Linked DNA regions of Homo sapiens: region 2 is linked to region 1. Evidence: fine-mapped expression QTL. Tissue or cell type: whole blood. Region 1 holds a variant in brackets; the other region holds the start of a gene. Each region is shown on its reference strand, or each on the opposite one. Region 1 overlaps LOC107986449 (a long non-coding RNA gene). Region 2 holds the start of APRT (adenine phosphoribosyltransferase).

Region 1 (2,908 bases):
AGATGGATCAAAGACTTAAGTGTAAAACCCAAAACCATCAAAACCCTAGAAGAAAACCTAGGCAATACCATTCAGGACATAGACATGGGCAAAGACTTCATGATAAAACACGAAAAGCAATTGCAACAAAAGCAAAAATTGACAAATGGGATCTAATTAAACTAAAGAGCTTCTGCACAGCAAAAGAAACTATCATCAGAGTGAACAGGCAACCTACAGAATGGGAGAAATTTTTGCAATCTACCTGTCTGACAAAGGTCTAATATCTAGAATCTACAAGGAACTTAAATTTACAATAAGAGACAAACAACCCCCTCAAAAAGTGGGCGAAGGATATGAATGGACACTTATCAAATGAAGACATTTACACAGCCAACAAATATATGAATAAAAGCTCATCATCACTGATCATTAGAAAAATGCAAGTCAAAACCACAATGAGATACCGTCTCATGCCAGTTAGCATGGCAATTATTAAAAAGTCAGGAAACAATAGATGCTGGCAAGGCTGTAGAGAAATAGGAACGCTTTTACATTGTTGGTGGGAGTGTAAATTAGTTCAACCATTATGGAAGACATTGTGGTGATTCCTCAAGGATCTAGAACCAAGGAAATACCATTTGACCCAGCAATCCCATTACTGGGTATATACCCAAAGGATTATAAATCATTCTACTATAAAGACACATGCATACGTATGTTTATTGCAACACTATTTACAATAGCAAAGACTTGGAACCAACCCAAATTCCCGTCAATGATAGACTGGATAGAGAAAATGTGGCATATGTACACCATGGAATACTATGCAGCCATACAAAAGAATGAGATTATGTCCTTTGCAAGGACATGGGTGAAGCTGGAAGCCATCATCCTCAGCAAACTACACAGGAATAGAAGACCAAATACCACATGTTCTCACTCATAAGTGGGAGTTGAACAATGTGAACACATGGACACAGGGAGGGGAACAACATACACTGGAGCCTGTTGGGGAGTGGGGGGCAAGGGGAGGGAGAGCATTAGAACAAATACCTAATGCATGTGGGGCTTAGAACCTAGATGATGGGTTGATAGGTGCAACAAACCACCATGGCACATGTATACCTGTGTAACAAACCTGCACATTCTGCACATGTATCCCAGAACTTAAAAGAAAAAACAAACAAACAAACAAACAAAATAATGCCTCCAGTTCCATTCAGGTTGCTGCAAAACACATTATTTTATTCTTTTTTTT[TG/G]TGGCTGAAGAGTATTCCATGGCATATATACCACATTTTCTTTATCCACTCTTTGATTTATGGGCACTTAGGTTGATTTCATGTTTTGCAATTGTGAATTGTGCTGTGATAAACATATGTCATCACCTACTTAAAGGCACCTACAATTCTGTCACTCACTGGGCCATTTTTTATGCTAGGCTGTGGCACTGAGGGATCTAGCAACATCCAGCATGATGTGGTTGCAGAAATAATGGATAAGTTAGGTGCCTGTGCCCATGAGCCTAAGCAACCTCACAGAGTCTCTCCCACTGTGCATGCCAACCCCCCATGCCAGTTTTCTAAAACTTTTGACCTCAGCTGCACTTGAGATATATTCACATTCCATCTTATTTATTTCATTTATGTTAGTGTCTCAGGGAATTGGTGGTCATGATGGTGGGGGAGGAGGGGATGACAGGCTGCCATCTTTTTGAAATCCCTTGTGGGTCATTCTTGGCTTCTTATTCTTTTTCCATCAAATTTTGACTCCATCATTACGTTCTGTTGATTTTATCTTGAAGTCATCCCTTAATCTTGGACCTACTCCCTAAGATCCCATTCATACTGCCACTCTACTAATAGATATCCCTAAATGACCCTATCATGTCTCTCCCACATTGTTGCCGCAGCCTCCAAATTAGCACCCCCACTTCTGGGTCTATCTGCTTGTCACAGCAATGTATTCTACATATTGTAGCCAGAAAACTCTTTGTAAATTGCAAATCTGGTCACATAACTTGTTTTCAAGAAATCTTCTTGTAGCACCCCGAATAATAAAGTTCATATTCCTTATGTGGCTTACAGATGCCCCAGTAATCCAGCCCCTGGCAAGCTCTCTAGTCTTATCTTCAGATACTTCTTACTGTCATTCACTTTGGGCTTCAGCCATGCGCTTAGACCTTTTTATAAGCTGTTCCCTTTGTCGTTAATTACCTTATCCTCACTTGTGCACCCATCTGGAGCTTACTTTTTCTTTATGTCTAAACTTAGACTCAATTTCCAGACCTCCTGAGACAGGATCAGTGCCACCCTATATGCGTCCATAAGTGCTTATCAGACTGCCTTGTTAACGCCTGTTCGTTGACTGCATCTCTTTCCTGACTGTGAGATCCGGGGGATCAGGCATCATGCGGGTATTCATTATCATTAAGTTCTTACAGAGAATAGTAGATAAAAATCCAGTAATTTAGACTCTCCTTTTTTTCAATGACACAAAATGTAAGAGAAAATTTGTCTTTTTTTTTACATAAGCATCGTGTATTTAATAAAAAACTTTTGCCCATGAGGGCTGTTAGAAATTGAAACATGTTTTTTGGAGAATTGGTATGTTAACTTCTGTCTTATGTCTTTTATATTACATGTTATTAAAACAGCAATTAGATGCCACTATACCTCAGAATAGCTAAAAATAAGATTGATAATACTACATACTGGTGAAGGTGTGGAACTACTGTAACTTTCATACATTGTTGATGGCATGCAAATTGGTACAGTTGCTTTAGAAAACTGTTTGACTTATCTACTAAAATTGAATATTTGCATACTTATTAGTCATTCTCATGTACTCCAGAAGACATGATGATAATGTTCACAGAAACATTATTTGTAATGGCCACCAAATGGAAACAATCCAATTGTCCATCCAT
Region 2 (2,832 bases), not on the chromosome of region 1:
CCCTTGGCATCAGACGATGGGTCCCCCACCCGCCCTGGAACCGGGGCCCCAGCAGCCGCATGCAGCCTCCGGCCTCCCCCTCCGAAGGCTCCTGGGGGCTGCCTTCCACTGAGTGGGTTTTCCCTTCTGCAGTAACTGCCAGGCCAAAGCTGAATTGTAAAAGTTGCGAAATGATGGGCCGGGCGCGGTGGCTCACGCCTGTAATCCCGGCACTTTGGGAGGCCGAAGCGGGCAGATCACGGGGTCAGGAGATCGAGACCATCCTGGCTAACACAGTGAAACTGCGTCTCTACTAAAAATACAAAAAATTAGCAGGGCGTGGTGGCGGGCTCCTGTAGTCCCAGCTACTCGGGAGGCTGAGGCGGGAGAATGGCCGGAACCCAGGAGGTGGAGCTTGCAGTGAGCCCAGATGGCGCCACTGTGCTCCATCCTGGGCGACAGAGCGAGAGTCCTTCTCAAAAAAAAGTTGCGAAATGAAGAAAAGTCTTGGAATAGAGCACAAGGCATTTTAGCTCTGGGGATTTTCTTGAAAGGAAATTGTGTTTGGGGGGAGTTATGCCTCACACAACCCCCTGGGTACCAGTCCTCGGGCGGCCAGGGGGTTCACAGCTCCCCACCCCAAGGCTAAGGGGTCACCTGGCCTCTGCAGGCGGACAGAAGGGCTTCTGCCCTCGCGGATGCGCGCCCTGGCCTGGCCACACCTTCCGGCCTCCCTCCCCCGGGTCCGGGCGGGGAAGAGCCGCCTCAACGGCAGGGCCCATCCGCGAGAGGCCAGCGCCCCCGGCCGGTCCAGCCCAGGCCCGCCGCCTCCGCCCTGGGCTGCTCCCTCCGGGCCCTGCACCGCCCTCCTGCTACTTGGACCGCTTCCTCACGCCCTTCTCCACCCCGCGCGCCAGCCTCCCGCGCGCAGCGTGGGGATCTCGGCCAATAAAGGAGAAAGGGCGCGGCCCGTACGCGCGCCAGGTGCGTGGGCGAGACCAGCTCACGCCCCTCCTCCAGCCGCCAAGGCCCCGGCCCACAGCTGCCTGGCTGCAGTCAGAAGCGTAGCCCGAGACAAGGAAGGGCGCCTTGACTCGCACTTTTGTCCGGTTCGAACGTTCTGCTCAGTGGTGCGTGGAATGCGAGCGCGTCTTAAAATCGATGGCGCCTAGGAGTCCATGAAATACGGTACAGGCTTCCGGCGACGGATGCCCCGCCCCTCACCCACGCTCCGCCCTCCGGGGATGCCCCACCCCTCGTGGCGGTCCCGCCCGTCCCCGCGCAGGCGCGCTCGGGCTGCCGCTGGCTCTTCGCACGCGGCCATGGCCGACTCCGAGCTGCAGCTGGTTGAGCAGCGGATCCGCAGCTTCCCCGACTTCCCCACCCCAGGCGTGGTATTCAGGTGCACGCACAGGCCGCCCTCGTGGCGCCCCGACCTGCGGGCCTACGGATGGGAGCGCGTGGCCCGCGACCTCCGGGCGGGCGGGGCGGGAACCCTCGTCTTTCGCCCCCGGGGCCCTGCCCTCCTTCGGCCCCGGCGTCACCAGGCCTGTCCTTGGGTCCAGGGACATCTCGCCCGTCCTGAAGGACCCCGCCTCCTTCCGCGCCGCCATCGGCCTCCTGGCGCGACACCTGAAGGCGACCCACGGGGGCCGCATCGACTACATCGCAGGCGAGTGCCCAGTGGCCGCATCTAGGGCGCTTCCGCCTCTGCGCGCGCCGAGGGCAGCACGTGGGCTCTGCGCGTCTGCTTGGGGGAGGGCCTTTGGGGTGCTTCAGGGGGCGCCGGGACGGGCGCCGTGCTTGGGTCGCCCGGGAAGGGTTGTGAGATTGAGCCCCCGAGGCCGCCGCGCTGTGCAGGCGTCCTTCCCGCAGGTTCCGGGTCCCCAGCCCAGGACAGGCGTGACCGAGTTGCCGGGTCAGTTGGTCTCCCTGGAGTGCCCAAGCTGAATCCACAGGGCCCAGCTGCCTTGCTTCTTGTTCCTTCTGCGAGCTGGTATTGAGCGCCTGCCACGAGCCAGGCCTTCCCTGGTGAAGATCACGGAATGCCCACCCAGGGAAGGGAGGCCTGGAGGCCTCCGGGAGAGCCCAAGAGGTGGCCCAGGGAGAACAGAGTGTTCCTGGCCGTCTTGCCTCTCCTAGGGTGTGACAGCCCACTCCCTGGACACTGCCCTGAGGAAAGCGCCAGCTCTTGCTGGAGCCACAACACTGCCAGAGCTCCCTTCTCACCTCCTGCAGGAAGCCCTCCCTGACCTCCTGCCAGGCCGGGGCAGGGTTTCCCTGAGCGTCCCCCAACCATCACAGCTCAGGCCACCTCGAGAGACTCCCTTTTTAGACAGAAGCCCTGGTGCAGAGCTGCCTTTGAGAGTAAGCTGAGGCCTGTCAGGTTTCTACCAGCCCAGTTACAGATGGGCTGCTCAGCTCAGAGAGAGGGGTGGTGACTCCCCTAGGAACACACAGCTAAGAAGTGGTCCCTTAAAAGACAGACCCAGGTCTGCACTCTGACCTGGAAGCAGCTCCGGGTAGGTGATGGGTAACATTCCTTAAATGGTGCATGTCACTGGCCTTTCAGCTGGGAGCCAACCAGGTACCCCTTGCCACCGGCCAACCCTGGCCCCTGGGGATTCCCATGCTGCCGAGTCACTCCTGTCACTTACCCTGACAGGCCTAGACTCCCGAGGCTTCCTCTTTGGCCCCTCCCTGGCCCAGGAGCTTGGACTGGGCTGCGTGCTCATCCGAAAGCGGGGGAAGCTGCCAGGCCCCACTCTGTGGGCCTCCTATTCCCTGGAGTACGGGAAGGTAAGAGGGCTGGGGTGGCCAGAGGAAGGGCAGGGCCAGGCCACCGTGGCCACT

What was found.
Region 2: it holds the start of APRT, and the variant in region 1 is fine-mapped to the expression of APRT in whole blood (TOPMed, PIP above 0.99).

What each region holds. Positions count from the first base shown.
Region 1 is chr5:130,839,488-130,842,395 of GRCh38, reverse strand. All of the region lies in intron 1 of LOC107986449 (a long non-coding RNA gene), which reads left to right. Among named protein-coding and RNA genes, the nearest start is that of HINT1, 320 kb to the left of the region's middle. The variant TG/G (reference allele first, on the strand shown) is at 1,241.
Region 2 is chr16:88,810,369-88,813,200 of GRCh38, reverse strand. It overlaps APRT (adenine phosphoribosyltransferase), which reads left to right and starts at 1,273. Exons shown (of 5, transcript NM_000485.3): 1 at 1,273-1,381; 2 at 1,545-1,651; 3 at 2,645-2,778. The coding sequence starts at 1,302. RefSeq lists enhancers at 1-213, 214-898, 2,404-2,832 and silencers at 611-870, 1,121-1,520.